Linked DNA regions of Homo sapiens: regions 1 and 2 are each linked to region 3. Evidence: fine-mapped expression QTL. A gene starts in region 3. Each other region holds a variant in brackets. All regions are shown on one strand. Distances are from middle to middle. Region 1 holds the start of GATA1 (GATA binding protein 1). Region 2 overlaps HDAC6 (histone deacetylase 6). Region 3 holds the start of PQBP1 (polyglutamine binding protein 1).

What was found. PIP is the estimated chance that this variant, and not a neighbour inherited with it, causes the effect. A credible set is the group of variants that fine-mapping cannot tell apart.
Region 1: its variant is the best candidate, but not a certain one, in a credible set for the expression of PQBP1 in esophagus mucosa (GTEx, PIP 0.52).
Region 2: its variant is the best candidate, but not a certain one, in a credible set for the expression of PQBP1 in monocytes (Fairfax 2014, PIP 0.56).

What each region holds. Positions count from the first base shown.
Region 1 is chrX:48,779,267-48,790,176 of GRCh38, reverse strand. It overlaps GATA1 (GATA binding protein 1), which reads right to left and starts at 3,587. Exons shown (of 6, transcript NM_002049.4): 1 at 3,532-3,587. RefSeq lists cis regulatory regions at 200-780, 3,340-4,460, 4,900-5,560, 7,092-7,213, 6,880-7,380 and 1 more and an enhancer at 6,785-7,513. The variant C/T (reference allele first, on the strand shown) is at 3,695.
Region 2 is chrX:48,819,434-48,824,433 of GRCh38, reverse strand. HDAC6 (histone deacetylase 6) reads right to left here. Exons shown (of 29, transcript NM_006044.4): 23 at 4,179-4,328; 24 at 1,640-1,814; 25 at 846-1,522; 26 at 649-762; 27 at 366-512; 28 at 140-268. Among named protein-coding and RNA genes, the nearest start is that of ERAS, 4.6 kb to the left of the region's middle. The variant G/AG (reference allele first, on the strand shown) is at 2,943.
Region 3 is chrX:48,892,537-48,900,289 of GRCh38, reverse strand. PQBP1 (polyglutamine binding protein 1) reads right to left here and starts at 2,360. Exons shown (of 7, transcript NM_001032382.2): 1 at 2,208-2,360; 2 at 1,714-1,798. The coding sequence starts at 1,780. It overlaps TIMM17B (translocase of inner mitochondrial membrane 17B), which reads left to right and starts at 2,522. Exons shown (of 6, transcript NM_001395498.1): 1 at 2,522-2,566; 2 at 3,432-3,531; 3 at 5,189-5,252; 4 at 6,065-6,193; 5 at 6,280-6,390; 6 at 6,473-6,841. The coding sequence starts at 2,541. The coding sequence ends at 6,561. RefSeq lists enhancers at 1,697-1,916, 1,967-2,336, 2,627-2,826, 2,857-3,006.

The DNA of each region.
Region 1 (10,910 bases), 110 kb after region 3:
CCGGCCTCTCTTCCCCTGTCTACATCTACTCTCCACTCCTTTCTCCTACTACTCATTTTCTCCTCCCCTCCAATTTCTTCATCCTTCTCCTCCCTTTTCTGTTCATCCTTTTCTCCCTTTCCCCATCTCCTCTCCTCCCCTCCTCCACTTCCTCTTATTCTCCCCGTCCCCCCGTCCTTTCTTCCCTCCCCCTCTAGAAGAGTCTGGGTGAGGGTGGGATGGCATGCAGGACCAGAGTCCCTTGCCTCTTGGTCACTTCACCCAGGACTTTGGGGTTCACCATCCTCTGCTCCCCAACTTCATCCCTATCTGTTGTATCTTGCCCTCTAACTTTCTCAGAAACCCCATGGTTTCCGGGCTTGACTCCCTCCTCCCTCCACCTCTGTTGCGTCTACAGACAGAAGGCCCCCTTAGTTCCTCCCTACTTCTTGGTTGGGGGGGGGTCAGTACCCCCCACTGCTTATCTCTGCCTTCCCCGCCCAACTTTTGAAATCACCCCAAGGCCACTGACTTCCTCTGAAGAGGGTGGCAGGTGGGAGGTACCTCTACCGGTACCCTCTCCCCTGGAGAGGCCCACCAGAGTTCTGCTTTCAGGCTCTTTCAGTTCCCAGGCCTCAGTTTCCCCATCTGCTGTATTGGGGGTGGTGATGGGCTGGGGCTGAGCTGAGACCTGTGGGATGGCCCTTTGCCTGTTTTGCCTTGTGTGTGTCTGTCATCTAGCTCTCCACTTCTCTATCCCCTGGGGCTCTTTCCCCTGACTCTCTGTTCCCTCTCAAGTCTGACTCTGTAGCTTCCCCAGCTTTCTGTGTTTCTATGATATAGCTTGTCTTCTCCTTCTGTGCTTTTTCTTTTTCTTTTTTTTTTTTTTTTGAGACGGAGTCTCACTCTGTCACCCAGGCTGGTGTGCAGTGGTGCGATCTCAGCTCACTGCAACCCCAGCCTCCCAGGTTCAAGTGATTCTCGTGCCTCAGCCTCCCTAGTAGCTGGGATTACAGGCACATGCCACCACACCCAGCTAATTTTTGTATTTTTAGTAAAGACGAGGTTTTGCCATGTTGGCCAGGCTGGTCTTGAACTCCTGACCTCAAGTGATCGGCCCACCTCGGCCTCCCACAGTGCTGAGGTTATAGGCGTGAGCCACTGCGCCCGACCTCTTTCTGTGCTTTTGTAATGTTTGATGATTTTCTGTCTTCTTTTCTGTCTTCCCATGTTTCTCTCTCTGGCTCTCTCTTTCTGTTACTCTTGCTTTCTCCCTCTCCTCTCCTATCTCTCTGAACATCTCTGCATCTCTCCCACTCTTCCTGCTTGTTTGTCTGTTCCCTCTGTTTCCCTCTCTTTGGGCCCTCTGACCTTATGTCCACGTGCCTCTTACTAGTCCCATACCCCTGACCGTACCCAGCCACATGCAGCTCAGGATAAGGAGCCTGGAATGCTGGCCCTGGCCCTATTGTGCTGGCCTGCTCTGTTTCTGTGTCTGTAGGGTGGAGTGACAGGGCTAGACTAGAAGGCTGTCTTCAAACTGCCCCTCACTCCTGCTTACATGACCCATGGTATAGACAGGCTAAGGGGCAGGCCCAGGCTTGGGAGTTATGCTAGGAAAGAGATGGGCCACAAGTGTGCCCACCGCCAACACCTTCTCAGCCCCAGGGTGCCTGCTGTTGCTCTCTGAAGAGAGTGTTTTGCTTCCCCATCTTGGTCTCCATCTCTTTCCTCTCTGTCTCTAATTCTGTGTTAGTCTCTGCCTCTTCACAGTGCTACCTGCGTGTATCTCTGCATTTCTATCTCCTTTTCTGCTCCCGGGTCTTTCCTTCTTTTTCTCCGGCCATCTGTCTGTCTCTGTCTCTTACTCGTTGAGTTTCTCTCTCTCTGTTTTTCCTTTCTCTTCATGTCTCTTTTGTCTCTTGCTCTTTGTCTCTGTGTCTCTGTCTCTCTCTTCCCATCTCTCCCTGTTTCTCCCTCTCTTCCCTGTCTCATTGTGTGTCTTCTGCTCACTCTTTCACCACTATTCCCTCATCCCCTCAACTCCACCTTACCCACCATGATCTCCCTCCAGCCCCACTGCCCCCAACCCCTGCACCTCACACGTTGGTGAGTCCAGGGCTGCCCACCCCTCCCATGGCAGGGGCCCAGCCTCCTCACCCCCAGTTATCACTCTCCGGACAGAGATAAAGTTTATCTCGAGGCTGGGGGATATGAAAGCTCCTTATCAGCTGCCCCACTAGAGTAAGTGTTGCCCCAACGGCGGCAGCAGGCAGCAGCTGGCACCCTCCACTCTCCCTCGGCCCCAGCCCCTCACCCCAGGTAACGTTCCAATCCCAGCCCTCAAGGGAGGGTCTCACCGGGCTGAAGGGAGCAGATATAAGGTCTAGGGGGCAGATATGGGGCTTAGGGGGAGATAGAGGTGGAATTTGAAGGTCAGATATGGGGTTAAGTCAGAGAGGTTTGGGGTGTAGCCATGGAGTTTGTGGGGAGGCAGATATGGGCGGGGTTGTGGAGCAGAGACGAGCTTGGAAGTTCAGAGACACATTTTGGGCTCAGGAATAGGTTGTGAAAACAGACGAGGTTGGGGGATCGGGGCGAAGTTTGAGAGTCAGAAATAAAGTTGAGAAGTAGTGTGGGAGTCAGATTCTGAGGGTCATAGAAAAGTCTGGGGAGTTCAAGGGTTTTTCTGGAGGAGAGATGGAGTTTAGGAGTCAAAGATCTGTTTGGGCAGACAGAATGTGGCTAGTAAAGGGGAGTTTGAGAAGCCAAGATAGAATTGGAGTAGAGAAAGGCTTGGAGCTGGAGAGATTCAGGGAGACAATGAGATGTGTTTTAGGGCTGAGATACGGTTTGGGGAAGGCAGACATGAGGGTTCATGCGGCAGAACAGATTTTGGGGAGTTGACTTGGTGTTTGAAGTGACAAAGATATTTTACTGAGCAGGCAGGGAGTTGGGAGAGATAAATGGTTTGCGGAGATCAGAGAGAAGTCATTGGGAACAAAGAGTGGGTTTGAAAGGCAGAGATGGTGGTAAGAGGATGGAGCTAGGGTTTGGCAGATCAGAGACAGGTTTGGGGGCTCAGAGAGAGTGGGGCAAAGACAAGGCGTTGTAGAGCAGATAAGGGGTTTGGGAGCAGAAAAGTGAGGTTTGGAGGAGAAGTCAGGGAGACAGAGACAAGTTTGGGTGAGTGGAAATCAGATATGGGACAGGGAAAGGATTTGGGGAGATAAAGTCATGTTTTGGGAGACAGAGTTAGTGTTTAGGGGAGACAGACCTAGGGGTATAGCGAGCAAAGTGAAGGGATCCAGAGGATATAGATATCTTGGACGGAGTGGATGAGAGGGCAGAAAGAGGTGGGGTTTAGGGGGTAGATTTGGGGTAGAAATGGGAGTTGGAAAGACAGGTGGGTTGGAGGAGCTGTAAAGGGATTCAGGGCTGGCTGACACTTTGGGGACCAGCTGTGGGTTGGGGAGCCTGGAGCAAGCATAAGGGTAGGGGCAGCAGGCCCAGGGTTGCCTTGGTGGGGGCTCTCTGGGGGCTGAGACTGACCTGGGCTGGTGGTTGCGGAGGGTTCGGCCGCCTTGGGGATGTGGCAAGCTCAGTGTGATCCCAGGGGGTGTCCTGGCTGGCCTTGGCCTTTGAGGCTCCCTTCCTCCCTCCCTCCCTCCCTCCCTTCTCCCTCCTCCCTCCTCCCCAGGGAGTGGCTGGTGCC[C/T]CAGTGGGTGGGGCAGTCCAGGGGAGGGGGCGGGTCCCATGCTTGTGGGGCACCTCTTGGGCACTGGAGGCCCTCTTCCACCCTCCCTGCCCACCCTGGGGATTCTTGGACCTCGCTCGACCTAGGCTCCCGTGGACTGTAGTGTCCAGACAAGCAAAATAGGCTGAAACCAAGATAAATGAAAATAGCAGATATGGTTTCATGACTTCACTGGGCTTTTCAGAGAGTAAAGCCCTTAATTTGTGCGGGGCCGGTGTGGGCTAGACTCCTGTGTATGTGCGTCTTCCTGGCTGCAGGGAGAGAAGGGATGTGGCTGTACCCATTTTGCAGGTGAGAAGAGTGAGGCTCAGAGAGGTTCTGCTGGATTTGAACTAGAGCCTGTGGGATACCTTGATGACCCAGGCTAAGCCTGCAGGCCAGGCCAGTGCTGGCGGGAGGCAGGGGCACACTCACTTAGCGCCCCACTGGGGCTTACGCCAGCTCCGGCCTGCCCTGGGGCAGCAGATAAGTCTTATCAGATGTAGGCGACCGTGGCTGTTGGCGCCGCAGTAACAGGCTGTCTTGGGGTGAGGGTGTGGGGGTAGGAACACCCAGGGACAGTGGCCTCAACTTCTTGCCCGCCATGCTGCCTTGGAGGCGGGAAACTGAGGTGGGAGCCAGGGATGATTCCTCGAGGAGTGGTATAGGGTAGGAAAGGAAAGGGGTGGAGTGGGAGAGACAGAGGCAGAGAGACAAACAAAAACAGAGATAGGCGGAGAGAGATGGAAATGGGGAGAAAGAGAGTGACAGAGATGAATAGAGAAGGAGACAGACGTGGAAAGAGGCAGAGAGAGGGCACAAAAGAAAAGGAGAGACAAAGAGGGCGAGACACCCGGGGAGAACCAGAGACCATTAAAGACATATAGAGAGAGGCAAAGAGAGAATGAGAGACAGAGATGGACAGAAGTGACAGATAAAACCTGAAAGGGAAAGAGGCCAAAGACAGAAGTGGAGAACTGAGAAGGGAGACAGAGACAGAGGGATATTCAGAGACAGACTCAGAAGAAGGTCCAGGCAGACTGGATCACACCCTGGGCATGTGGTGCCCATGCAGGTAGGATGGGAGGATGTGGATTGATGTAGCCTGTGGCTCTGCCCTCAGCCCTCAGCAGGGGACAACCAGAATGTGGCTAGGCCTCCGCACCCCAGTCCCCACACTCTTGCCCTGCCCCACCTCCTCCAAATATTAATGACAACAACCACAGTGTCTCATAGACCTCACATAGACTTGTACCTAACCTGAGCACTTTTTCTATATGAAAGCATCTGACACACATGCACACGTGGGACAAGGAGCTGTCCTGCCCACCTAGTCTACAGATGGGGAGACTGAGACCTACAAAGGGCAGAGGCCAAGGGTGGAGCCCCAGGTCAGTGGGGTCAGCTTGCCCACTGGCCCACCCTGGAGGGATCTTACCATTCTTATCTCACTCCTCTGAGCCTCAGTGTCCTCATATGCAATGGGAGATTTGAGGAGGAAAGAGAGCAAGCCCATGAATTCCTATTTATTGAGCTCCTGCTGGTGTGCCACGCCCCATGCTGAACCCTCATCAGTAATAAGGAGAACGAATACAAAGACACCTCTGACTTAAGTGGCAGTGGTTTCAGGAGATGGTCTCTAGAGCCAGCTCATCCTCGTTCATAGACTGCCCTAACCACTAATGGATCAGGTGACCTTGGGAGAGTTACCATCCCCTCTGGAATTTAGCTCCTCATCTGTAAAAATGGGGTAATAATATACCCCAATAAGCCACTCCATGCAGTGACTGGGGAGACTAAATGAGTTTTAACCCATGTTACATGATCTTAACTTACTTGAATCTGAAATCTCAATAAATATTAAGTACCCCTATTTATTTATTGAGTACCTACTGCATACAAGGGAGAGTACATAGCCCTTTCTAACCCTACTACTACTTATAGTACTAATGCTAATAATATGCTGACACTAAGAGTAATACCAATATTGTAATATTGATACTGACACTAAAACTAATTTTATTTCTTTAAATTTATGATTGACACATAATAGTTGTACATATATATGGGGTAAAACATGATGTTTTGTTACATGTATACATTGTGTAGTGATCAAATCAAGGTAATTAGCATATTCATCACCTTAAACATTTATCTTTTCTTTGTGATGAGAACATTCGAGAACGCCTCTTTCAGCTATTTTGAAATATACATTTATTGTTGACTCTAGTCATTGTACTATGCATTAGAACACCAGAACTTATGCCTCCTATCTAACTGTAGCTTTGTACCCATTGACAGCCTCTCCCCATCCCTCCCTGCCTCCTACCCTCCCATCTGCTGGTAACCACTATTCTACTCTCTACTTCTATGAGGACATACTAATTTTCATAGTAATACTCATCTAATGCTAATACTAATTTTAATCTAACACTAATACTATTATTAATACTAACACTAATTCTAAAACTATTCTAATTCTAACAACAATAGTGATAATGATACGTACTAAATATTTTTTGGGGACAGTGTCTCACTATGTCACTCAGGCTGGAGTGCAGTGACAATCTTGGCTCACTGCAGCCTCCACCTCCTGGGCTCAAGTGATCCTCCCACCTCAACCTCCTGAGGAGCTGGGACTTCAGGTGCATGCCACCACACCCAGCAAAAAATTTTTTTTCAATAGAGATGAAGTCTCGCTATGTTGCCGAGGCTTGTTTAATTCTGATATTAATAATAGCATTAATAGACTAATAATAACAGCAGCGGCATTATTTGCTGAGTGACCCCAGGCACTGTGCTAAGCGCTCTCCACCCATAATTCTATCGCATTCTCACCAGCTCCTTGTGGTGCAAGTGTGTATAATTGCCCTCACCTCCAGACTGGTTCTACATAGGTGTGTGGAAATGAAGATGTTCCTCCAGGGCCCTGGGTTCTTGTCTCAACTCTGATTTGCTGTGTGATTTGCTGTGTGATTCCTGGGCCAGACGCCCTCTGAGCCTCAGTTTCTTCATCTGGAAAACGGGTAAAGTCCTAGCCCCCCACGTGGGTAGGAACCACTCAGCACAGGGCCTGCTGGCACACCATAAATGGTGTGCTCTGTAAATGGGAATTATCATCATCATTATTATTATTAGAAGCAGCGGTCGCAACATAGGGAAATCTGTCCTCACAGGGAATGGCAGGCTCGAGGCATGTCTAAGAGCTAAGACAAGGGTTTGGCCGCTGGACTCACCCCATTTCTTCATTTCTGGAGAGCACAGAGCGCTCAGGAAGAGAAGCCAAGGGTGAGGAGTAGGGCGCCCCAGAGCCCTGCCTCCAGCAAGAGCTGGAAACCCCGAGGCTGTGAGGCCAGGCCTCACCCCATTCCCTCCCCCATCCCCGTGGAGGGGGCGCAGGCTCAGAAGTCTGCGGCGACAGTTCAGCCAGCAAGGAGGCAGCTGGGAGTGGGCAGATAAGGGAATCAGTGGGGCCAGATCAGGCTTTGGGGGAGACGAGGGCGGGGGTGGGGTGTCCTGGCCGCGCGTCTTCTCCGTCAGGCCTAAGTTTGAGACTCTTCTTCAATGTCCTCTCTTCTCGGAAGCCTTCCCTGACTGGCTCACTCCCTCCTGGCATCTTCTGGGGTTCTAGAGCCCCTGCTTGGTCCAGGCCCCATGGCATTTGTACTGTTTGTGCCTCTTCTGTACTGTGGAGCCCATCAGGGTGGGGACAGAGCCTGACAGACTGTGGTGTCAAAAGCACCAAGGCAAATGTCAACCAAAGCCTGGTTAAGGAGTCAAGCGTTTGCCCTCAGAAACAAACTGTTGGTTGACTGTTTTAAAAAATGGAAAGTATAAAGGGTGCTGTAACAAGCATCTACTTTTGTCAAACATTAATATTTTGCCTTATTGACTTCAGATTGTTTTTAAAGGATATGCGATATTACAGATGCTCTTGTACTGATTCCATTTCCCTCTCTCCTTCTACTGCCTTGAGCTTGGTGTTTATCTTCCTCATGAGTATTTTTACTCCATCACTCCATATGTTGGTACCCATAAACACCATATGATACCTGGGGTTTTTTTGGCCTGTTTTTGCACTTCATGGAAATGGAAGCACATCATACAGTATGTGCTGCTTTTGCTCAGCATAATGTCTGTGACATTCTTCCACATTGTCGTGTGTATCAATAGTTCATTCTTTTTTTTCTTTTTCTGTTTATTGAGACATAATTCACATACCATAAAATTTGCTCTTAACCATAAAATTCACTCTTAAAATGTATAGCAAAGCGATTAGTATATCACGAGGTTGTGTAACTATCCACTACCTAATTCCAGAACATTTTCATCACCCCCAAAAGGAACCCTATATCTATTAACATACACCCTCCCATTCCATTTCCCTCTCCTCCCATCCCCGGGCCATCACAAATCTCTTTGTCTCTATGAATTTGTCTGTTTTGGACATTTCATATAAATGCAGTCATATAATATGTGGCCTTTTGTAACTGCCTTCTTTTACTTCACATAAGTTTTTTAAGGTTCATTCATATTGTAGCATGTATCAGTACTTCATTCATTTTCATGACTGAATAATATTCCTTTGTATGAAAATACCTACTACATTATAGCTAGGATGCGGTGGCTCACACCTGTAATCTCAGCACTTTGGGAGGTTGAGGTGGGTGGATTGCTTGAGCCCAGGAGTTCGAGACCAGCCTGGGCAGCGTAGCAAGAACACGTGTCTACAAAAAAGAAAAATTAGCCGGGTGTGGTGGTGCATGCCTGTGGTCCCAGCTACTTGGGGGGCTCAGGTGGGAGGATCAGCAAGTTGAGGCTGCAGTGAGCCATGATTGCACCACTGCACTCCAGCCTGGGCAACAGAGTGAGACCCTGTCTCAAAAGATAAAAGGAAAAAGAAATGCCACATTATGCTTATCCATTCACCCATTGATGGACTCTTGGCTATCACAAATAATGCTGCTATGAACATTCATGTGAAAGTTTTTATGTGGACATATGTTTTTCGTTTTCTTGGGTATATAACTAGGAATGGAATTGCGGGGTGATATGGTAATTCTATGTTTAACTTTCTGAGGAACTGCAAGTGTTCTCCACAGCTGCCATATGGGGATTCAAATTTAAATTTAACCACATTCTCTCCAACACTCCTTTCTTTCTTTCTTTCTTTCTTTCTTTTCTTTTCTTTTCTTTTCTTTCTTCTTTCTTTCTTTCTTTCTTTCTTTCTTTCTTTCTTTCTTTCTTTCTTTCTCTCTCTCTCTCTCTCTCTCTTTCTTTCTTTCTTTCTTTTTTCTTTTTTTTCTTTTTTCTTTTGTTTGGCAGGGTCTCACTCTGTTCCCCAGGCTGGAGTACAGTGACATGATCTCTGCTCACTGCAGCCTCAACCTCCTGGGTTCAAGTGATCCTCCCACCTCAACCTCCTGAGTAGCCAGGACTACAGGTGCATGCCATCACACCCAGCTAAATTTTTGTTAATTTTTCGTAGAGATGGGATTTTCGCCACGTTGCCTACGCTAGTCTCAAACTACTGGGCTCAAGCAATCTGCCTGCCTTGGCCTTGCAAAGTGCTGGAATTACAGGCTACCATGCCTGGCCTCCAACACTTTTTATTGTCCCTCTTTTTGATTCTAGCCATCCTACTGGGTGTGGGTGTGAAGTGGTGTCTTGTTATGGTTTTGATTTGCATTTCCCTGTGACCACTGATGTTGAGCATATTTTCATAAACTTGTTGGTCATCTATCTTCTTTTTTTTTTTTTTTTTTTTTTTGAGATGTAGTCTTGCTCTGTCACCCAGGCTGGAGTGCAGTGGCACGATCTTGGCTCACTGCAGCCTCCACCTGCTGGGTTCAAGTGATTATCCTGCCTCAGTCTCCTGAGTAGCTGGGATTACAGGCACCCGCCACCATGCCTGGCTAATTTTTGTATTATTAGGAGAGATGGGGTTTCACTATGTTGGCCAGGCCAGTCTCGAACTCCTGACCACAAGTGATCCATCCGCCTCAGTCTCCCAAAATGCTGGGATTACAGGCATGAGCCACCGTGCCCAGCCCATTTATCTTCTTTGGAGAAGTGTTTATTTAAATCCTTTGCCCATTTTGAATTGGGTTATTTGTCCTTTTATTGTTGAGTAGTAAGAGTTCTTTATGTATTCTGGATACTAGACTCTTTTTAGATATGTGATTTTCAAATATTGTCTTCTGTAGGTTGTCTTTTCACTTTTTTTTTTTTTGAGACAGGTTCTCACTTTGTCACCCAGGCTGCAGTGCAGTGGGGGTGAACGTGGCTCACCGAGGCCTTGACCCCCCAGGCTCAAGTGATCCTCCTGCCTCAGTCCCCCAAGTAGCTGGGACTACAGTTGCATGCCACCGTTCCTGGCTAATTTTTGTATTTTTTGCAGAGATGGGGTTTCACCATGTTGCCTAGGCTGGTCTTGAGCTCCTGGGCTCAAGCAATCCACTCACCTCAGCCTCACAAAGTGGTGAGATTACAGGCGTGAGCCACTGCGTCCAGCCAGAAAGCTTATAGTTTTGATGAACTCCAGTGTGTCTATTTTTCTTTGGCTGCTTATGCTTTAGATGTCACGTCTAAGAAACCATTGCCTAATCCAAGGTCACAAAGACTTAAGCCTGTTTTCTTCTAAAGCAGCGGTCCCCAACTTTTTGGCACCAGGGACCAGTTTCATGGAAGACAATTTTTTTCCACAGAAGTGGGGATGTTTTCAGGATGATTCAAGCGCGTTACATTAGAGTCTCATAAGGAGTGCACAACCTAAATCCCTCGCATGCACAGTTCACAATAGGGTTTGAGCTCCTAAGAGAATCTAATGCTGCAGCTGATTTGACAGGAGGCGGGCTCAGCTTCATGAATGGCAGCAAGCCGCAGCTCACCTCCTGCTGTGTGGCCCAGTTTCTAAGAGACCACAGATGGGTTTGTGGCCTGGAGGTTGGGGACCCCCGTTCTAAAAGTTTTATCGTTTTAGCTCTTACATTTAGGTCTTTGATCTGTTTTGAGTTGTTTTTTGTATATGGTATGAGGAAGGGGTCCCACTTTATTCTTTTGCATGTGGATACTCAGCTGTCTCAGCACCATTTGTTGAAAGGAGCATTCTTTCCCCATTGAATGGTCTTGGTACACTTGTCAAAAATCAATTGCTAGCTGGACACAGTGGCTCACACCTGTAATCCCAGCATTTTGG
Region 2 (5,000 bases), 74 kb after region 3:
CACAGCCCCCGCCCCATGCAAAATAATCACATGAGGCAGCCATGCAGAGGGGCCTGTGGTCTCCCTTTACCCAATCACAGAAGGGGTGTGTGTGTGGGGGGTGAGTGTGCACGTGTCGAAGGGTCTACCCAGGGCCCACCTGGTGGTGGACATAGGCCTGACAGTAGTAACACCAGGCTGACAGGTCGATGTAGCTGAGGACCAGCGGGTGTCCAGAATTTCCATGGTGTTGGAGCATGTGGCCATTGATGTAACGACCACAGTAGACCTGAGGTTGGGGGTGTGAGTGTCAGGTGGGGGTCAGCATCCCCCTGCAGTTTGCTCCCGGGCCAACCTCCGCCCCATCCCCTTCCTCTGCTCCATACCTGATAGCAAGAGAGACACACCCAATTCTCTTGGATTGTTCCACAGTCCCCACAAGGTTGGGTCACGTCTAGGCCTGCTGCAGGTATGGGGCATACTGCCACCAAATGGGGACACCAGGGCAGTGGTGTCACAGCATAAAATATGGCCTGGAGTGGGTGGGTGAAACTAGGTAAGCTGAAGACCCCATCTCCCCATTATATGTTTATTCATCACATGCTCCTACCTGGAGACACAAATTGGCAAGAGAAGGAAGCCACAGTCCCAGCCTCTCCCTGAGCTCACCTGATCAGTGAGGCCCCTAGATCCCTGCATCAGCATCGAATCAGCCATGTCCTGACCTCCAGCTGCCTCTCCTAGTAGGTTCTCCTCTCCTGGGGCCTGAGATTCTGAGGCCCCCTGGACACGCAGAAGTAAGAGATGTATCAGAGAAGCCCGATTCTTGCCCCTTCTTGCCCCTACCTGGGTGTGGTGAGCCTTACCTGAGATTCGCTGCCTAGCTCCAAGGTCCTGAGACTCCCAATCAGTGTACTGGGAGATATCTGGGGTGTAGTTCCCTGCACAGGTGAGGTTGGGGGGGTCTGGTGGTCTGTGCTCGAGGCTAGAGGAGTTTGGATCAGCTCGGTGCCCCCTGGAGCCTCCTCTGACGTAGTCTGGTCCAGTGTGGCTCCCTCCATGGCTGCCTCCGAGGTGGTCTGGGCCAGTGTAGCTCCTCCTACAGCCTCCTCTGAGGTAGTCTGGCCCAGCGTGGCTCCCCCAACAGCATCCTCTGAGGTGGTCTGGTCCAGAATGGCTCCTCCCACAGTCTCCTCTGAGGTGGTCTGGTCCGGAGTGGCTCCCCCGACAGCCTCCTCTGAGGTGGTCTGGCCCAGCATGGCTCCCCCAATGGCTGCCTCAGAAATGGTCTGGGCCAGAGTGGCTCCCCCTGTGGCTGCCTCTGAGGGCTGGTCCTGAGTGAGGGCCACCACAGCTGTCTCTGAGTTAGTCTGGCCTGGAGTGGACTCTTCCCCAAATGATGCCGAGGTGACTTTCCCCATGCCTGCTTCCAGAACCTTCTTTTCTCGTGTGGTCATCCGCTCAGCTAACCTAGGTTTGGCTGGTTGGGGTGCCTTCTTGGTGACCAACTTAGAACTGGAGGGTCCTTCTCTGTCTTCTACCTCTGGAACCAGGGAGGGAGATCCTTGAGTGTGGGTACTGTCACCCTTCCTGCCTCTGATCTCTGCCCCTCAGCCCCCTCCTTCCCTGGGTTCCCCCCATCACCCCCAAATCCACTCACTCATGACCCGTAAGCTGCGCCAGTATCTGCGATGGACTTGGATGGTCTCAGTGATTGAGGCCAGGGCCCCTGATAGTGGGGGCCGTGGCAGGGTCAGCAGGGGTGGTGGGTCTCCAAGGAGGGAGCGAGTGCAGGCAGCCATGGACTCTGAGATGGATGTCAGGTTATAGCCACCCTTTGTTAAGGAAAAGGGGAGGGAAAGGTATGGTGGGGGTTCATTGGGGAATTTGGAGGACAACATGTCCTGCCTCCCCAATCCTCCCTACTGAGCCCTGCAAGTCTGGAGAGGGAGGGGGAGTACTGAGAACAAGTGAACAGAACCCACACCTTTAAGATAGGCAGCACCCACTGTGTAAGGTGGTTGTTGTGGGGAGTAAATTGTGATGTAAAGTGCAAGATAACAATACTGATAAAAGCATTAGTAACAGCTGACATTTATTGTTTGCTGTGTGCCAGACCCGATTTTAAGTACTTCATGCATATTAACTCAATCCTCACAACCACAGGCGCTCAATCTATACAGGAACTTGCCTTCATGCCATACAGAAATCCGTCTTCACACTGTCCAGGAACCCCTGGCCTCACATCATACAGTAACCACTGACCTGACCTGCACAAGACGACTGCTGTGAACCCATACAAAAGCCCCTGCCCTGACCTAGTACAGGAACAACTGGACTCTTTCTCCACATGGACTCCTGTATTGACTTTTTTTACACTCTACAGGAATCCCAGTTGCTATTCTTTTTACAGATAAAGAAACTGAGGCTCAGAGTGGTTAGATGACTTGTCCGAGGTCATAACAGCTGAAGAGGCAGCACTGGGGTTTGAACTTGGGCTCTCTGATGGAGTCATCTGTGTTCTTAACTCCCACCGTGTCCTGTCACAAGCAGTACTGGGCACATAGTAAGTGCGACTTTTTGCAAGCCAATTAATTTCTCAGTGACTTATTTTCCTCATCTGTAAAGTGGTGAAAATAACAGCACAGGCTGGGCGCGGTGGCTCACCCCTATAATCCCAGCACTTTGGGAGGCCGAGGCGGGAAGGTTACCTGAGGTCAGGAGTTTGAGGCCAGCCTGGCCAACATGGTGAAACCCCCGTCTCTACTAAAAATACAAAAATTAGCCAGGCGTGGTGGCATGCGCCTGTAGTCCCAGCTACTCGGGAGGCTGAGGCATGAGAATTGCTTGCTCGAGCCTGGGAGATAGAGGCTGCAGTGAGCCGAGATAGCGCCATTGCACTCCAGCCTGGGTGACACGGCGAGACTCTGTCTCAAAAGGAAAAAAAAAAAAAAAAAAAAAAA[G/AG]AGGCAGGTATGGTAGCTCATGCCTGTAATCCCAACACTTTGGGAGGCTGAGGCAGGTGGATCACGAGGTCAGGAGTTCAACACCAGCCTGGCCAACATGGTGAAACCCCGTCTCTACTAAAAATACAAAAAAATTAGCTGGGTGTGGTGGCAGGCACCTGTAATCCTAGCTACTCAGGAGGCTGAGGCAGAGAACTGCTTGAACCCAGTGAGCCACAATCGCACCACTGCACTCTAGCCTGGGCGACAGAGCAAGACAACGTCTCAAAAAAAAAAAGAAAAAGAAAAAGAAAATAAGAGCACAGAAGGTTGCTGAGTGGGTTAATATCTGAACAACGCATAACAGTAACCAGGGGCCAGGTGCGGTGGCTCATGCCTGTAATTCCAGCACTCTGGGAGGCTAAGGTGGGTGGATTTCTTGAGGCCAGGAGCTCAAGACCAGCCTGACCAACATGGTGAAACCCCATCTCTACTAAAAATACAAAAATTAGCTGGGCGTGGTGGCGGGTGCCTGTAATCCCAGCGACTCAGGAGGCTGAGGTGGGAGGATCACTTGAAGCCGGGAGGTGGAGGCTGCAGTGAGCTGAGATCATGCCACTGCAGACTAGCCTGGGTGACAGAGCGAGACTCTTGTCTCACAAACAACAACAACAACAACAACAACAAAAAACCAGATCCAAAAGATCCAGCATTTACCATATGCCAGGCATTCCTCCATGATTAGCCTGCCTCATAAAGATGAGGAAACTGAGGCACAGGGCGTGGGGATACTGAGTCATTTACAAAGGTCAGTGAATTTCCTTTGTCCCAGGAACTTGTTAGAGGCAGTTCAGGTAGAGTAAAAAGCACAAACCCTGGAGCCAGGCTGCATGGGTTCAAGTCCTGGTTCTGCCATCAGTAAATGTGCCATCTCAGGCTAGTCATCACACCTCTTTGTGCCTCAGTTTCCCTGATCTTCAGAGAGGAAAATGAGGTAAGCTTACCCTACCTCATAAGGCTGCTTTGCCAAGTAACTGAATGAATAAGACACATGAGGTGCTCAGAAGAGTGCTCTGCACATAGTGAGCACTCAATTAAGGCTGTTAATGTTGCTGTTATTCTTATTACTACCCAGTATGTGCCAACAATCCCAGGCAGGGACACTCAAAGGAGATTTCAGGAAACTGTCCTGAGTGATGGTGCCAACATTTCCAAACTACCCTCCCACTGTGGGAAGAGGGACCAAGAGAAAGTTACCTCTAGGATAAGGATAATGCGGCCACTGGCAAGGCCCATCAGCAGGTGGGTGAGGTGGGCATAACCCTCAGGTGACACCTGGCAGCCCCCCAGCGGATCCCCCCGTGCAGCATCAAAGCCAGCTGAGACCAGCACCAGTTCTGGGTTAAACTGAGGCAGGGAGAGAAGAGATGTATAAGCATGAGGGTAGGGGCTTTTGGTAGGCAGTAAGTGATGGCGACCCAGAGACATGGAGAAAAGGACAAATGAAGACATGGAGATGCAAGTCAGAGAGATGGAGACACAGAACCTGGAGACTAGGAGACACAAAAGCAGAGACTGAAAATGAAGAAGGGAAGAAAAGAAATACAGACTCAGAGGTAGAAGAAATAGATGCAGACTTAGAGACATGGAGATGGCAGAAAGGGACAGATGGGGGCCGGGCATGGTGGCTCAGGCCTGTAATCCCAGCACTTTGGGAGGCCGAGGCGGGCAGATCATGAGGTCAGATTGAGACCATCCTGGCTAACACAGTGAAACCCTGTCTCTACTAAAAATACAAAAAATTAGCCAGACGTGGTGGCGGGAGCCTGTAGTCCCAGCTACGCAGGAGGCTGAGGCAGGAGAATGGCATGAACCCAGGAGGCGGAGCTGGCAGTGAGCCGAGATTGCACCACTGCACTCTAGCCTGGGTGACAGAGCAAGACTCCATTTCAAAAAAAAAAAAAAAGGGACAGATGGGGACATGAGACAGACTGACACGTCAAGAGAGTGACATGAAAAACAGAGAGACAGAGACATGTCCTCACACACACATACCCCAGGGTCAAACGTGGGACACAC
Region 3 (7,753 bases):
AAAAAGTAAATCAATGATCATTGCCAGTTTTATTTTTTTGAGATGGAGTCTTTCTCTGTTGCCCAGGCTGGAGTGCAGTGGCATGATCTCGGCTCACTGCAAGCTCCGCCTTCCGGGTTCACACCATTCTCCTGCCTCAGCCTCCCGAGTAGCTGGGACTACAGGCATCTGGCACCACGCCCGGCTAAGTTTTTTGTATTTTTATTAGAGATGGGGTTTCACCCTGTTAGCCAGAATGGTCTCGATCTCCTGACCTCGTGATCCGTCCACCTCCGCCTCCCAAAGCGCTGAGATTACAGGCATGAGGCACCCTGCCCGGCCTGGGATCATTGACAATTTTATTAACCACAAGGTCTATACCTTGCACACAGTAGGCTTGTAATAGATGTCAGTTATCAATAAGGAGAAGATATATTTTCCAGTGCCTGGCACACTATAGCCCCAAATAGATGCCAGTTTTTAGTATTACTGATAATAAGGTGTGATTTGCAGCCAGAGCACAGTAGGCCTAAATGATAGATCCTCACTGCAACTACGCTTGGCACACAGGAGACAGCAGTAGAGGTTAGCAGTACTTCCTATTAGATACTATGTCATCACCCCCATAGAGTAATCCATGGGATTTAACTTGGCATACAGTAGGCCCCAAATAGGCATTAGGTGGTCAGTATTATTTTGTTGTTTTTTTTGGATTTTTTTCAGACAGGGTCTCCATGTGTCGGCCAGGCTGGAGTGCAGTGGCACAATCTCGGCTCACTGCACCCTTGACATCCTAGGCTCAAGAGATCCTCTCACCTCAGCCTCCCAAGTAGCTGGGACTACAGGCATGCACCACAACACACGATTAATTTTTGTATTTTTTGTAAAGACGGGGTTTTGCCATGTTGCTCAGGCTAATCTCTTAATCCCTAAACTCAAGCAATCTACCCGCCTCAGCCTCCTAAAGTGCTGGGAATGCCAGCTTGAGCCGCCACGCCCAGCCAGTCAGTATTGTTAAGAATGAAATATCTGCCGGGCACAGTGGCTTATGCCTGTAATCCCAACCCTTTGGAAAGCCAAGGGTGGGGGGTGGATCACCTGAGGTCAGGAGTTAGAGGCCAGCCTAGCCAACATGGTGAAACCCGTCTCTACTAAAAATGCAAAAATCAGCCGGGTGTGGTATCACGTGCCTGTAATCCCAGCTACTTGGGAGGCTGAGACAGGAAAATCGCTTGAGCCCGGGAGGCGGAGGTTGCAGTGAGACGAGATCACGCCACAGCACTCCAGCCTGGGCGACAGACCGAGACTCTGTCTCAAAAAAAAAAAAAAAAAAATTGCCAGGTGTGGTGGGGCGGGGCGTGCCTGTAGTCCCAACTACTCGGGAAGTTAAGGCAGGAGAATCGCTTGAACCTGGAAGGCGGAGGTTTTAGTGAGCCGAGATCGCGCCACTGCACTCCAGCCTGGGTGCACAATAAGACTCTGCCTCAAAAAAAAAAAAAAAAAAAAAAAAAAAAAAAAAAAAAAAGAATGAAATATCTATTCCCCCAACCCCCTCCACTTGACACGCGGTAGGGATGGATGTCAGGAATCCACATTGTTAACAACGAAAAATGCCTGCCACCCCATTGCTTGGTGCACAGTTGGCCCATGCTAGGTATCAAGCGTCAGTATCAACAACAAAAGTGCCTGTCGAGGCTGGCACGTGTTAGGACCATCTGCTTTTAGCTGTCTCACCAGGCTCCAGATGTTTGAGGATGCCTCTCTTGGCCAAGCGGGTCTGCAGCGCAACGGGCAGCGGCATAGCTGATAGCAGACAGACCTAGGGACAGACGAACAAACTGACAAGCAGCTCAGATAAAGATTCCTATCTGGATCCCGTAACCAAGCGCCTCCCGTAAACATGTACTCATCTGACTCCGATCTACTCAAATGAACCAGTAGCTGGGTGGACAGAACATACGCACTAAAAGATGTAAGAGGTAGGTGGCAATATCATCGCAACTCCCACCAACCCTACTGTCCCCGAAACCAGGTGCTCCAGGGCCCTGTTCCTCTCCCAGGCCCAGGCTCCGCCCACAGCCTAAGAAGCCCGGCCCCTCCGCACTTCAGAAATGGGCTCATCCAGCGTCCCCATGACTGCCGGGTGGGAGAAACCAAAGCGCTGGGATGGGGGAGCAGAGGGCAGCACTTCCTCCAGCTCCAAAAGAGTGCACCCACCCCAACGTTACCAATACACTCGTGCAGGTAGTGGAAGGCTGTCACACCGCCCGTCTCTCTCGTGTCGCCGCTACGATACCTGGGCCCACACGACTCTCTTCCCAAAACACCGAATGAGACCTTCTCTCAACGAGGCCTTCACTCCCCGAGCCTGAAAGTAACTGGACTACGCTCAGGAGGCAATGAACAAATGGCAGAAACTCGATTGGCCAATGAGAGTGCGTCCTTGGCGTGACATGCGGTATAGCGACCCAATCGCTGCCCGGTAATAGGCGGAAAGCTCCGACGCCGGTGTGCGTCTACGCTGGGGGCGTGGCCTGACTGCGCGGCCAGACGCCAGCGCCATGGAGGAGTACGCTCGGGAGCCCTGGTACGGCAATGGGCACAGGCATCCGGAATATTGCTGCGACGCCAAGGCCAGCCGTGGGGGTCGGGCGGGGGAGGCATCGGCCGCACAGAGCCATGTACCAGACTCGGGGGACTCTTAACGTATCTCCCGCTACCCCCACTCGGTTCCTGTCATTCGGGCTCCGTTATGAGGGGCCACAACCAGAGAAGGTGCGGCGAAGGCCGAACCACGCCATGTTTCTCCTGACTTCGTAATCTCCTAGCCCTGTTAACGAAAAAAGACACGCTGGACGATCCATCCCGGCTAGGGGTGGTACGGTGTTGACCGGAAATCCCCAGAGTTGCCGCCAGTGGTTTTTCCCAGGTCGCCTTTGTCAGTGGGGGGCGGGGCACGGATGAACCTGTTGAGGGCCGGCGGGGACGGTGGATGCTTCCCGCGGTCGCTCTTGGTTTTTCCCAGTTGTGCCGGATTGAAAAGGGGCGGGGCATGGTTGGACGGGCTCACCGTCGGAGAAGGGGTGCGACGCGGTCCTGCTTTGCTGACAGTCTGTCTTGGCTAGTTAACACGCCTATGTCGCTTATTGAAACGTCAACTCTGCGTGTGCCAATTCATTTAATCTTTGATCACAGTAAAACCGTTGGCTGATTCCTTGGTTGGTAGACAGGGCGAAGACTAATATTTCTCCCCCTTTGCCCCATTTCTCGCTTTAATGGGGGGGTGTGTGGAAAAAGCGTGACAGAACTAGCTCATTATTATCTGAAGTGTTTGTTCCTACTTAGGAACTTCCCATTCTGGTGACTTGGTTTCTCCCAGTTAGAAAAGAGTTCGTGTGACAGGACCTGGGGGAGGGCTCACATTAACCCCGTCCTTCCCTTCCTGCTTGCAGCCCATGGCGAATTGTGGATGATTGCGGTGGAGCCTTCACTATGGGTGTCATCGGTGGCGGAGTCTTCCAGGCCATCAAGGGTTTCCGCAATGCCCCTGTTGTGAGTCCAGGCCTTCCCTGGGTTGGTGTGGGGTTAGCTATCTTGCCCACAAGGGAGGCTGCTCTGAAAACTGCTTGGAGCTGCCAGTCACGTGCACTTATTCATTCTGGTGCCCACTCACCTACTATGTGCCGAGCCTGGCTCCTGTATCTGGGATTTTGTAGGGATTGCAAACATGGCCTCTGTCTTCCACCCTCCACCCCACCCAACTGGAGCTCCTCTGTGGAAATGCTGTGTCGTTCAAAGAGTCATCACCAAATTTTAAATGTATGTGCAAAGCCAGACAGTTTTTTTTTTTTTTGAGACAGTCTTGCTCTGTTGCCCAGGCTAGAGTGCAGTGGCACGCTCTTGGCTCACTGCAACCTCTGCCTCCTGGGTTCAGGCAATTCTCCTGTCTCAGCCTCCCAAGTAGCTGGGACTACAGGCATGTGCCACCAGACCTGACGAATTTTTGTAATTTTAGTAGAAATGGGGTTTCACTATGTTGGCCAGGCTGGCCTTGAACTCTGGACCTCAGGTGATCCACCTACCTCGGCCTCCCAAAGTGCTGGGATTACAGGCGTGTGCCACTGTGCCTGGCCATGTTTTTTTTTTTTTTTTTTTTTTTGAGACAGCATCTTGCCCTGTTGCCCAGGCTGGCGTGCAGTGGCCTGATCATGGGTCACTACAGCCTCCGCCTCCCAGGCTCAAGTGATCCTCCCACCTCAGCCTCCCAAGTAGCTGGGACCACAGGACTGCGCCACCATGCCCGGCTAATTATTTATGTATGTATTTATTTATTTGTAGAGACGGGGTTTCAACGTGTTGCTTAGGCTGGTCTCTAATTCCTGAACTCAAGTGATCCACCCACCTCAGCCTCCCAAAGTGCTGGGATTACAGGTGTTAGCCACTGCGCATTTTACCTAGAGGCAGATTCTGGCTCAGAAACCCGGATAGAGGAAAATGACAGGAATTTAATTGGCAGACGGAAGACAGCCTTGAAGTTGAGAGAATTCTTTTAACATAATTCTTTTTCTCTGACCACCTCCCCTCCCAGAAGATCGCAAATGCCATGACTTTAAATGCCATCTATTAGCCAAGGTCTCTGCAATTTATATATGTAGCCCCGTCCCTCCCCTAGACTCCTGGAACTCTCCTCCCTGGATCTTTGCCCAAGTTTGTCATCCTCAAGGTCTCAGCACAGATTCCCCCTCCTTCAAGAGGCCTTTCCTGACCCCTCAGCCCCAGTCATATTTCTTCATGGCATTTCCTCTACAGTGCAGATTGCTGTCTGAAGCTCCCTTGTTTATCTACTCTTGCTCAAGATCTGTGTCTCCCACCGTTAATGTGAGCTCTGAGAGGGCAGAGAGCAGACCTACCTTGTTCATGGCTGTATCCCTGCATATGGCATGGTGCTTGGCACATATAGTAGGTACTTGTTAATCATTCACTGAATGAATGAATGAACAAATGTATGAATGAATTAGCACTTCTCAACCTAGCTCTGAGAACACCCATGTTGGGGCGCTCTCCAGGCCACTAGTTCTTGGCCACTTCTCCACATCTCTACAGCTCATACCTCTAACAGGTCTCCCATCTTCTTCCCTCTCTTAAAAGTTGGAAACGTGTCTGCCAGTGGCTTCAGCCCTGCCCTAACGCCCTTCCTTCCTTTCCCCAGGGAATTCGGCACCGGTTGAGAGGTAGTGCCAATGCTGTGAGGATCCGAGCCCCCCAGATTGGAGGTGAGGGACTTGGGGAGATAGATATAGGAGATGTCTTGGCAAAGGTGGGAGTGGTTGATCCTTTGGGTCTAGGCTGCAAGTTAGGGGTTCAGATTCTAGCCCCTGCCAGAGACTTTCTAGGGGGGTGATGTTTCCCAACAATTGAATATGGAGGGGAAGAAAGTGGGTTCTGGAGTTTAAATCTAGGTCCTGACTGTTCCCTGCCATGTGACCTTGGGCTAGTGGCTTAACCTCTCTGAACCTCACTTGTACCGTGGGGGTGGTGATAACAGTAACCACTTCATCGGTAGTTTTATAGTTTATGTAATTTACATACTACTAAGTGCTGGTTGCTATGCTAAACACTTTAATAACATTAACTAATTTAAAATTGCAGAAGTTAAATAACAGAGCACCTCGAACAGGTCCTGGCACACAGTAAGCCCTCAGTAAACATTTTAACTATCATATTAACTGGGTTTCCTAACCTATTTCCTTCTCACTGAAACCCAAATCAGAATTCCAACTCTGTGTGGTGATTATGAAGCTCAAAGTTGCTCTGTTAAAAGCCATATGAAGATAAATCTGCTTGTAAACATTTGTCAACTCCCCATAAAGATGAAGGGAATGTTGATGGTGATTATAGACGGCTTGAAGTGGGAGCTACCACAGGATGGGGACAGATAGGAAATACTCTGTGTGGGTTTGCTATCTGCCTTTGTGTCTGGGTTTTTCTCCCTGTTCTTGGCCAAAGCATTCAGGCCTTGGAAGTCCCCTGAGATGTGAATTCTCAGGATTTCCCAGGAACTAATTAGGCCTCGGTTCCACTACAGGTAGCTTCGCAGTGTGGGGGGGCCTGTTCTCCACCATCGACTGTGGCCTGGTGCGGCTTCGGGGCAAGGAGGATCCCTGGAACTCTATCACCAGTGGAGCATTGACCGGGGCTGTGCTGGCTGCCCGCAGTGAGTGACCCCTGGCCCTGGCCCCAGCCCCTTCCACCCTGTTCTGCCTGCTCTCACCTCTGTTTCTCTGCCTCCAACTCCCCCAGGTGGCCCACTGGCCATGGTGGGCTCAGCAATGATGGGGGGCATCCTGTTGGCCCTCATTGAGGGCGTTGGCATCCTCCTCACTCGCTACACAGCCCAGCAGTTCCGAAATGGTGAGTAACTGGTGGTCGGGGGAGTGGGAAATACTCCACCTGGCCTCTTCCACTCATCCTTACCCAAGTCTCCCTTCTCCAGCGCCCCCATTCCTGGAGGACCCCAGCCAGCTGCCCCCTAAGGATGGCACCCCGGCCCCAGGCTACCCCAGCTATCAGCAGTACCACTGAGGAAGCCACTGCCACCATGGGAGCTACTTCTCGGTTCCCTCCCCGATGGTCTACCTCGAAGGGAGGGCTGGCTCCCAGTTAGCCCTGGGACCCTCCAGAGAGGGTTTCTACTCTGCTCCCTAGTCCCAGGGTGGGGGTGGGGCACCCCAGCTGCCCTGACAGATGGGTCCCCTTTTTCTCTCTCAGGGCACCCCAGCCCCACACTCACATGTACGAAGTTCTCACCCCAGCTCCTTTGTGTGGCACCCTGATGAGTATTTAAAGCCCGTTTTGAAATGCCTATGTGTGGACTCCTTGAACTGCCTATGGGGCCCCTCCTTAGGATGAGGGGCAGAGCCTGCTTCAGGGACTTGGAAGCCCTAGGACTTGGAGGCCCACAGCAAGTGGGCTCTAGTAAATGTCTATGGGATGGATGAGCAGGAAGGGAGAATGAAGATGTGAATTAGGGACATGAATAAGGTTGTCTGGGGCCTGGTGATGGGTCCTAGCTGTCAGAGGAACAAGCTTGGGAAAGAAGTGAATGAACACCAGGATTGCTGGGGATGGGGGTGGTTCTGGACGTTGCACCCCTGACCCCATCCCCCCCCACACACTCCAATATCCCTGACTCCTGGTCCACAAGCCCCCGTCACCGAGGCTGGGAAATGTGGCCTCACAGGAGTCCCTTCTTTCTGGACACTCAGCACGGCATTTGTGAAGGTGATTCCCCTCCCTCCATGTGGCCTCAGGGTGGATCTGGGATGGAAGAAGGGGGCCAGGAGACCTAGCTCCTTCAAAGAAGGTGCCCTGGATCAGCCTCCCCTTCTGTCACAGAGCTGCTTTTCTGCTTTCCTCTGCTCAGTGTGGTCAAGTGTTTTTATTTGTTGTTTTGAGACGGAGTCTTGCTCTGTCACCCAGGCTGGAGTGCAGTGGCGTGATCTCGGCTCACTGCAACCTCCACCTCCCGGGTTCAAGTGATCTCCTGCTTCAGCCTCCTGAGTAGTTGGGATTACAGGCGTCCACCACCACACCCAGCTAACTTTTTGTATTTTTAGTAGAGACGAGGTTTCACCATGTTAGCCAGGCTGGTTTCGAACTCCTGATCTCAAGTGATCCGCCCACCTCGGCCTCTCAAAGTGCTAGGATTACAGGCGTGAGCCACCACGCTCGGCCAATTTTTGTATTTTCAGTAGAGACGGGGTTTTACCATGTT